Regions from separate parts of the Homo sapiens genome. Here region 1 is linked to region 2. The links come from fine-mapping of genetic effects on gene expression. A gene starts in region 2. The other region holds a variant in brackets. All regions are shown on one strand. Distances are from middle to middle. Region 1 has its middle 44 kb from the start of LINC01168. Region 2 holds the start of LINC01168 (long intergenic non-protein coding RNA 1168).

Region 1 (5,366 bases), 44 kb before region 2:
TCACGCACGCTAACACACATCACACACTAACACACATCACACACTAACACACATCACACGTGCTAAAACACATCACACAAGCACACATCACACACACTAACACATCACACACACGAAAACACATCACACAAGCACACATCACACACACTAACACATCACACACACAAAAACACATCACACAAGCACACATCACACACGCTAACACACATCACACACTAACACACATCACACACTAACACACATCACACGTGCTAAAACACGTCACACAAGCACACATCACACACACTAACACATCACACACACAAAAACACATCACACAAGCACACATCACACACGCTAACACACATCACACAAACACACATCACACACACTAACACATCACACACACAAAAACACATCACACAAGCACACATCACACACGCTAACACATCACACAAACACACATCACACACACGAAAACACATCACACAAGCACACATCACACACGCTAACACACATCACACACTAACACACATCACACGTGCTAAAACACATCACACAAGCACACATCACACACACTAACATCACACACACGAAAACACATCACACAAGCACACATCACACACGCTAACACACATCACACACTAACACACACATCACACACTAACACACATCACACGTGCTAAAACACATCACAAGCACACATCACACACACTAACACATCACACAAGCACACATCACACACGCTAACACACATCACACACTAACACACACATCACACACTAACACACATCACACGTGCTAAAACACATCACACAAGCACACATCACACACACTAACAATCACACACACGAAAACACATCACACAAGCACACATCACACACGCTAACACACATCACACAAACACACATCACACATGCTAACAGGTAACACATTAACACATCACACACTAACACATCACACATGCCAAAACACATCACACATACTAACACACCACACCAACACACACCACACCCACCAACACACACCACACCCACTAACACACATCACACATGCTAACACATCACACACGCTAACACCACAGGCGGATGCAGGAACAACAGGCTCCTGCGGCCCAGCCTGAGCCAGCAGCTGGGCATCTCTGAGCCGGAGACCAGCTCCCACCGTGCCTTTCCCTGGCCCAGGCACCAGCAGCAGCCCTCAGAACCTGAGGCCCAGACCGGTGGGTGCAGCCTGGTCCCAGTGCTGCGGCACCCACAGCTGTGAGACAGACCTTCGGGGAGGGACCTCCAGCCGGCCCACGCGCCTCACACTGGACAGAGGGGAGTGTCCCTGGACACAGACCCCCGGCTCTGAACTGGACACAGGGAACATCTCCGGACACAGACCCCCGGCTCCAAACTGGACACAGGGAACATCTCCGCACACACCCCCCGGCCCTGAACTGGACACAGGGAACATCTCCGCACACAGACCCCCTGGCCCCGAACTGGACACAGGGAACATCTCCAGACACAAACCCCCGGCTCTGAACTGGACACAGGGAACATCTCCGCACAGACCCCCTGGCCCTGAACTGGACACAGGGAACATCCCTGGACACAGACCTCCTGGCTCTGGGCTGCATGATGAGGGACAAAGGCAGCCACCTCTGGTTCCTAAGGCGGAGGAGCCGCTGGCGTTCCCAGCACTGCCGGAGCTGGGGTGGGCTGCAGGGGCAAGGACCGCCCCGCCTGACCCCGCTGGAGAAGGCAGGCCGCACGGACCACAGAAGCGGCAGCATCGCGCTGGCCGTTTTCAGGCTGAAGGCAGGAGGGCATCCCAGGGATTTGCTTTTTGAAGCCGAGTTGTGTTGATTTGAAGCCACTTTCTCTTCCACGCTGTTTGTATCCACAGAACAGGCCGTCAGCCCAGAGGTGTCACCACGCACCGCCTGCCCCAGGCCCTGCCCCGTGCCGCACCCAGTGCTATGAGGAGTGCTAAGTATTGCCTCCTGAAGACAGGACTCTCGGGCTGCTCTCAGGAGGGAGTGTGTGCGGGGCTCGGGCGGTGGCAGCCGCTGAGCAGGGACTTCCCGGCCTTCCCTGCATTGGGGAGGCTGCATGGGCGTGTCTGGCCAACGGAACCTGACTTCCCGAGGTCCATTATCTCAGGTCCAGCCCCCAGGAGCCCTCCTAGCACCCCACCTCCTTCTCT[T/C]TCCTCCTCTGCTGACCTGGAGCAGAGGGGCCGGGGAGGAGCCCCAGGTGCCGGGGACAGGAGCCCTGTGCAGACCAAAATATTTTAAAGTTTTCTACTTCCTGCCCTGGGTCTGGTTCTGGGCCACTCCCGTGTGGGAGAGTCACGCCCTTGGTGGCCTGAGGGCGTCACTCACATTCAAGTGTGGGTAACTGGAAGGCTGGCTGGCGCCCTGAGAGAGGGTGGGGCCTGGCTGTCTCATGACCTCTGCAGGGACAGGGCCAAAGGGTTTTCTCCTGACACGTCAGTTTCTCTGGAGAAGAATCTGGCCCCTTCCTGCCTAGGAAAGATGGTGCTGCCTCTGTGTCAGCATGGGCCTCTCCTGGCCCTCCCCACGGCTGCTGTCTCAGAAACCACAGCCCCCAGGACCATTTTTCTCAGGTTAAACCTCCTTCCAAGGCGGGAGTGGGCATTCACAGACATGCTCTCCTGACTCTGAAGTTGGGGAAAGAGCCGTTCTCCTTCAGGCTTATTCTGTTCATGGTAATCACAGCCACATTGAGCCCCAGACATTATCATGCTTCTCTGCTTCTTCCCAAAGTGCGCTGAGGCTGCGGCTCGCAGTGGCGTGAGGGTCGTACCCATCTGCAGGGGCCTGGTGCAGCCCATACCTGATGTTTGCGTCCAGGCAGGCCGTTTGTGCTGGCGTGAGATGGACTCCAGCGAGGCTGTTGTGCTGGGCTTGGGAGTGTGACCTCGGTTGGAATTGCAGAGTCAGTCTGAGAGAATCTGTGCCTGGAGTCCAGGAGAGTGCAGGGGGATGCTTTGTCCACCCTGTGGCTCAGCCTGGCCCTGTGGGTCAGGAGATGTTCCCAGCTGCCGTGCAGTGAGCTAGGGGCCCCTCGAGTACACTCTGGGCAATGTCCGGGTGAGTAGCCCTTCCCCGCCCAGCTCCCGGGCAGCTGCTGAATCTCTTCCCAGGGCTCAGGCTGCTGTGTCCAGACCAGGACCCGGGTTTGGAGCAGAGCAAGCACTTTCGCACTGGATCTTCCAGAATTGCGGGGCCCGGCCTGACACTCAGCCTGTGGCTCTGTGATGTGAGCCGCCACCCCCTCACCAGATCGGGCTCTGCAGCAGTAGGCTCCTCTGAGACCCTCTCTCACAGGCCCGGGGGGCCCGGCCCTCTTTCCCTCCGCATCACCGAGGGAGGTGTGAGAGAGACGCTCCTGGGGGCCCGGCCCTCCTTCCCTCCCCGTCACCGAGGGAGGTGTGAGAGAGACGCTCCCAGATGGTGGCCCAGTGCCGGTCCTCCTGGTCTCGTCCAAACACCTCGCACACCACAGCTGCCCTGACGCTCGGAGCACGGCTGGCGGGACCCTCCAAACATGGTCCCGAGGCAGGGTCTTACCCATCCACCACTCCTGGGATGTGAGAGAAAGGGGAGGCCGGTCTAACCCAATATGTAGATTAAAGGAAAACATTCTAGGCAAGGACAGAGCACTTAGGAGGCTGGGAAACTTTCAGGAGAGAAAGATGAAGCTACGTTCATCAGTGTTGTAAATGTGAATGCTCTTCCTTCATTTTAAGCCTACTGGGTTGTTTTTTTCCACTTTTTTCTTTTGATGACAAGCATTCAGTTGCCGTCTCTCTCAAGTCCTAAGTGTGGGAAACATAACTAAGGCCGTCCCGTGATTACGGACAATTCTTCAGCTTACTGACAATCTGCCCCTCTGTTTCCAGCCCCTCTTTCCAGGGAGGTGCCAGCTGTGCCTAGGCTGTGGGGCTCCCTTTCCTGGGACCCTTGGCCTCTGGGTCAGGTTTGCCCAGAACCCCCGGACTTCCTGCCTCTGCCCAATAGAGGCCGCGGGGGTGGGGCTGTGTTTGGGAAGGTGCCCGGCCCTCTGCCTTGTTCCCAGACTGACTCTGACGTCACCTGGGCCTGGTGGGCATCTCCAGGCTGCCGCCCGGCCGATCTGGGTCCAGGCCTCTGTGCCGACTCACTTGTCCCACACCCTGGCTCTCAAAGGCCACCCAGGCCCTGGGAGGCCAGCTGTGCCCTGGTTCCTTGCCTCAAAGCCTGGCCTGGGTGTCCCCTCCAGGACAGCTTCCTCCCCAGGGACTGGCTGTCACCACTGCCGGCAGGTGAGATTCCTCTCCCTCTGCCATGTGCCTGGCTGGGGGCTGGGAGGGGAACAGGGACCTGGCAGGCAGGAATGTCCCATGTGACCGAGCGCCCTGGGCCAACTGGGACATAAAACCTCGGCCAGCCCCTCCCAAGAGTGGAGGCCCAGGAGCCATTCAGTTGGCCCTGGGTGAAGGTAAACTGAGGCCCGTGTGCTGGGAAGCCCCAGCCATCTCAGATCGGGTTCCGACTGTCACCCCTGTATGATGTGAAGGTACTGTGAATCCTGGGGAGCTCATTTCCTTTCCCCCAAATGTCACCTGCTCCCACCCTGAGCCCCCTGTGCCCCCACGGCAGGCGTGGCTCCTCACCCCCAGGGAGACGCCAAATCCTCCTGTGAGGTGTGCTGAGCCACATTGAGTGTCCCAGGGTCCCAGAGCCTTCTGGACAGCCAGGCAGGCGCGGCTGCTCACTGGGCTGTGGAATGAGCCGGGGCCCTGGCTGCGCTCTCCCTCGGGCCCTCCTCACGGCGCAGGACGACGTCCACCTGAGACCGCAGAGTACGTGGTCGTCAGAAGCTAAACCCTTGCCTGGCCCAGGGAAGGCCTGATGGACTCTTCGTCCTGTGGGGACCACGTGTCCACGGGAGGTCACTTGTCCACAGGAGGTCACTTGTCCACGGGAGGTGGCCTTGTGTGAGTGGAACTGTGTCCCTGGTTCCCGTCTCTCGCTCTTGGGTGTGGCCTTCCTGGCAGACAGGACCTTTCCGAAGGCAAGTGGGTTAAAGTTTAGTCATGGGGTGAGCTCTGGTCCAGCATGACTGAGGTCCTGAAGGAAAGGGACATGTGGACACAGACATGCACTGAGAGGAACGCTGTGGGGACGTGAGGACCCTTCCCAGCCCTGCGGGCACCTTGATCTCAGGCTTGCAGCCTCTGGGGCTGTGAGAGGACAAGGCCTGTGGCCTACGCTGCTGTGCAGACTCCCATCTGGATAGCCAGACCATCTCCTCCAGGGTCCGGAGGAAGCCCCGAGCCACACCAGACCCCCAGATGCTTCTGCGGCAGAGGGAAGTCCCTAAGAAGCTTGT
Region 2 (5,366 bases):
GCTAGGGCTCCACCCCCACGGACCTAGGTGAGGACAGGAATTTCCTGCCTAAATGTTGCATTTCCCAAGACCTCCCCTGGCCTGTCACACCCCTGTCACATCCTGTGCCTATAAAAACCCTGAGACTCTAGCAGGCAGGCACACAGGCAGGTGGACATCAAGAGGAGCACATCAGTGGAGGAACACACGGGCAGCTGGACGTGGTGAGCAACGCTCCGACAGTCACCAGCACGCCAGAAGGACACCGACCGATCGGCAGAACGACGTGGAGTTTGGCCAGGGCAGTTGGAGAGACCAGGCTGCCAAGTGGCCTGACTCCAGAGGAAAACCTTCCCACTCCATCCCCCTCTGACTTCCCCGGAGCTACCTCCACGCAATAAAACATTGCAGTCATTCTCCAAGCCCAGGTTTGATTCGATTCTTCCGGTGCACCAAGGCAAGAATCCTGGATACGGAATGCCCTCTGTCCTTGCAACAAGGTCTAATTGAGCTGGTGAACATAAGCCACCTATAGATGGCAAAGTAAGAACATATGGTAGCACATGTCCACTGCAGCGTCAGGAGCTGGAAACATTCACCCCTAGACACTGCCATGGGGTCAGAGCCCCCCAGCCTGCTCGTCTGTATGCTCCCCTGGCTAGTTTGAGCATCGGGGCACTGAAGAAGCAAGCCACACCCCCATCGCACACCCTGCAAGGGGAACAAGGGAACCTTTCCCATTTCACTTATAAGACTGATCATAAGACCGATCAGGGCCGGGCATGGTGGCTCACGCCTGTAATCCCAGCACTTTGGGAGGCCAAGGGGGGCGGATTATGAGGTCAGGAGATTGAGACCATCCTGGCTAACATGGTGAAACCCCGTCTCTACTAAAAATAATAATAATAAAAAAACTAGCTGAGTGTGGTGGTGCATGCCTGTAGTTCCAGCTACTCGGGAGGCTGAGGCAGGAGAATGGCTTGAACCCGGGAGGCAGAGGTTGCAGTGAGCTGAGATTGCACCATTGTACTCCAGCCTGGGTGACAGAGCCAGACCCCATAAGACTGATCAGGAGGCCTGGCACCGAAGCTCACACTTGTAATCCCAGCACTTTCAGAGGCCAAGGCAGGAGGATTGCTTGAGGCCAGGAGTTCAAGACCAGCTTGGGCAACACAGCAAGACCCCATCTCTCCAAAAAATATTTTCTTTAAGTAGCCAGGTGTGGTGTTGCATGCCTGTAGTCCCAGCTATTCAGGAGACTGAGGCAGGAGGATCACTTGAGCCCAGGAGTTTGAGGCTGCAGTGAGCTATGATTGCACCACTGCACTGCAGCCCAGGAGACAGAGTGAGATCCTGTCTTAAACAAACAAAAACACAAAACAGATCAACCAAGATAAAAGAAAAATAAAGAGGGAAAAGCCTAAATTGCCAATATCAGAAATGAAAGAGGAAATATAGAGATTCTACAGTCACTAAAAGGGAAATCAGGGAACATGATAAACCAGTTTATGCCAATACATTTGGCAATTACAATGAAATGGGGGAAAGTCCTTGAATAATACAATTTACCAAAACCACCTTAGAATAAAATGGAAAATCCGAACGTCAACCCAGACTGAGGGGCACTCTGCAAAGTCGCTGACAAACACTCACAAAAATGTCAAGGTCAAGAAATACAAAGAAAGGCTACAAGAACTGTTGAAGAAGGATGGAAATTAGGACTTTGAAAAGGTCATAGGCCCGCGGTCCTGGATTAGATCCAGGATGTAGTGGGAAAAAGCTAAAGGGATGTTTAGGCACAATTGATGAAATCTGAGTATGGACTCTGGATTAGATATTTCATTGGTGTGAACTTTCCTGATTTTGACAGCTATACTGTGGTAATGAAAAGAAGTGTCTTTGTCAGGAAGTACACGCTGAGGTATTTAGCAGTAAAATGGCATAATTTCTTCAACTCTCAACTCACCCTCCGTCGATTCAGGGAAATGCGCATATGCAGACACAGGCACATGCAAACACATGTAAACACATGCAAACACATATAAACACGCGTGAACGGCAGAACAGCAGGAAGGTAACGCCAGAGAGAATTGGGAACAGCAGGAAGGTAATGCGTGAGGAGAAGTGGGAATGGCAGGAAGGTAATGGCATGAGGAGAAGTAGGAACAGCATGAAGGTAACGCCAGTGAGAAGTGGGAACAGAGGGAAGGTAACGTCGTTGAGGAGAAGTAGGAATGGCGGGAAGGTAACGCTGGTGAGAAGTGGGAAAGGCGGGAAGGAAACACCATTGAGGAGAAGTGGGAACGGCAGGAAGGTAACGCCGTGAGGAGAAGTGGGAATGGCAGGAAGGTAACGCCAGTGAGGAGTGGGAACGGTGGGAAGGTGACACCGGTGAGAAGTGGGAACCGCAGGAAGGTAACGCCGTTGAGGAGAAGTGGGAACGGAGGGAAGGTAACGCCAGTGAGGAGTGGGAACGGTGGGAAGGTGACACCGGTGAGAAGTGGGAACCGCAGGAATGTAACGCCGTTGAGGAGAAGTGGGAACGGAGGGAAGGTAACGCCAGTGAGGAGTGGGAACGGTGGGAAGGTAACGCCAGTGAGGAGTGGGAACGGTGGGAAGGTGACACCGGTGAGAAGTGGGAACCGCAGGAATGTAACGCCGTTGAGGAGAAGTGGGAACGGAGGGAAGGTAACGCCAGTGAGGAGTGGGAACGGTGGGAAGGTGACACCGGTGAGAAGTGGGAACAGTTGGTGAATTCGCCTAAGGCTCTAATGGCAGTTCCTTGTCGTATTCTTGTGACTTTTACATATGTTTGACGTTGTATCAAAATGGTAAGTTGGGAAAAACCCTCAGAGCAGCTCATCCTCAGACCTGCTGAACAGTCTTCAAAGACGCCAAACGGTGGCAGCCGCGTCTTTGTGAGGCTCTTCTGGCGACGGCGCTGGCGCGGACCTGCCCCGGCAAAGTGTGCGTGTCGGGAGGCAGCACCCGCCCGCCAGGCCTGGCCACAGTGGGAGGAGGGAGGTGGCGCAGCAGCCGCTGGGCGTCCTGGGGGTGACCTGGGCTCACAGAGGGCAGGGCCTAGGGCCACGCCGATGAGCCTGTTAAAGTGCCTCACAGTGTCATTGCGACTCATAACCATTCTCACCGTTGCTTATTTTACGTGGCACTTGCTTGTGTCCACCCAAACTGCCTGACCACGAACCCAGAAACCATGAATATTTTGTCCCCGACCGTTGGCCGCGCCCTAGAACCAGGCCTGGCCCAGGCTGGGTGGGTGGGTGTGAGGGATAAGAAGAGAAATGGCAGGCAAGTCGGTTTTAACATACAGAACAGGTGGCCACGCGGGACAGACCCTAAAGCCAAGGTTCTTTCTGACCTTATCATGAGGCTGATCCTTGGAGCGCAGGGAGGCGGCCGCAGGGTGAACAGTGCCCTCTGTGTAGGCTCCGGAGCAGAATGGTCATCATGGACAGGCCGCCGGCTGCTGGGCTGTGACTGTTCTGAGGCTGAAATGGGCAAACAGCCTTGCCTCCTCTCCACCTGCAGCTGCAAGCCTGGACAGTCGAGGCACCCCGGGAACCTCCCCTACGCTCATGTCTTGCTCGTGCATTTCTGAGCTCCCCGGCAGTTCAGCCTCCCTTGTATTAAATCCTGACAGGAAGCTTGGATTAAGACCTCGGTAGTGCTAAAGCCGTTGCTCTCTGAACCCATGCTCATGGGGGATGAATCTTGTCTCCCCAAAAGATATGTTCGAGTCCTAAGCCCTGGTTCCTACAAACGTGACCAGTTTGGAAACAGGGTCTTCGCAGATGTAAAAAGTTAAGGATATCATGATGAGATCATCTTGGATTTAGTATGGGCCTGAAATCCGGTGCCTGGCATCCTTATGGGAGAAAGGAGAGGCTTGCAAAGATGGAGGTGGGGCTGGGCGATGCTGAGGACACCCGGAGTCACCAGAAGCAGAAGCGCCGAGGAGGGATCTCCCTGGAGCGAGCAGCTCTGAGGGAGCGCAGGCCTACACCTCAATCTTGGACTCTGGCTTCCGGAACCATGAGGGAACAAGTGTCTTGTTTTAAGCTGCAGCCCAGGAATCCGCCTCCCTGTGGCTCACCAGTCCCCTTGGGCACATCTTCCCTCTCCTAATGGGGTAAAATCAGGGGCAATGTGCTGTGACCTGTGGCTTTGGGGGTGCTCTCAGGAGCGGCCTGGGGCTGAGCAGGCAGGGAGCCTCTACCTGTACCTACTGTGCCTGCTCCCTGTGAGGGCTGGGATGCCCCCCCGATGCTGAGCAGGTGCCAGGAATGTTGATGGATGGATGGATGGAGAGAGGGATGTTGATGGACGGATGGATGGAGGGAGGGATGTTGATGGACGGATGGATGGAGGGAGGGATGTTGATGGACGGATGGATGGAGGGATGTTGATGGACGGATGGATGGAGGAAGGGATGTTGATGGACGGATGGATGGAGGGAGGGATGTTGATGGACAGATGGAGGGAGGGAGGAATGTTGATAGACAGATGGATGAAGGGAGGGATTTTGATGGACAGATGGAGGGAGGGAGGAATGTTGATAGACAGATGGATGGAGGGAGGGATGTTGACGGACAGATGGAGGGAGGGATGTTAATGGACTTATAGAAGGGATGAAGGGACGGCCAGTCCACCACCAAGCAAGGATGAAACCCTAGATGCAAATCAGGCTCCGAGTCAACTTATGGGAGTTCTTTGATAAAAACACATATTCATAAAATGAGTCACAAAGGCCCTTGCATTTTTCATTTTCAATCTGCATTTGTAAACATCTTTACTCAGCTTCACTTTGTACAGGGAGGTCTTCGAAATTTTAATTTCAAGCTCAAAACATGAGGGCTGTTATTCTGGCCCACTTTTTTTTTCTTGGAAAAGATAGGAAGCTCTTCGCCAAAAGAAAAATAAGTCACAAGCTTAATAAATAACGAAGCACAAAGCAAACCACTCATGCTCAATTTTTCATACTTCTATGAATATTTCAGGAAATAATAGATGGCCTTAGAAGACTATCATAAGGCTGGCAGGGACCCGGAGCTGGGGACAGCCACCTTCTTCTCTCAACCCTCTTGATGTCATTTGTGTAAAATTAATGCAGGAGTTGGTTTCATTTTCTAATTCATCGAGAAAGGATATTTCTATTCACAATGGCATCTTCCAGTTACCCATCCAAGACTTCGGTGGTGCGGGGCAGGGGAGCCCCCAGGTGGGGCTGAGCCCCGACGGTTCTTGGCTTTACCCTGGAGGGAATTCAAGGGCAAGCCGCAGGTAGAAGGAAAGAGCTTTATTCAGGCGGCCGTGCCACAGCTCACAGCTCCCTGACTGCTCCTGCAGCGGGGCCGCCCCGTAGGCAG

Evidence for each region. PIP is the estimated chance that this variant, and not a neighbour inherited with it, causes the effect. A credible set is the group of variants that fine-mapping cannot tell apart.
Region 1: its variant is the best candidate, but not a certain one, in a credible set for the expression of LINC01168 in lung (GTEx, PIP 0.50).

Annotation. Positions count from the first base shown.
Region 1 is chr10:133,006,390-133,011,755 of GRCh38, reverse strand. It overlaps LOC112268067. Among named protein-coding and RNA genes, the nearest start is that of LINC01168, 44 kb to the right of the region's middle. RefSeq lists an enhancer at 3,018-3,845. The variant T/C (reference allele first, on the strand shown) is at 2,176.
Region 2 is chr10:132,962,487-132,967,852 of GRCh38, reverse strand. It overlaps LINC01168 (long intergenic non-protein coding RNA 1168), which reads right to left and starts at 2,319. Exons shown (of 3, transcript NR_046231.1): 1 at 1,946-2,319. LINC01166 (long intergenic non-protein coding RNA 1166) reads left to right here and starts at 2,564. Exons shown (of 2, transcript NR_120627.1): 1 at 2,564-2,667. RefSeq lists an enhancer at 5,123-5,366.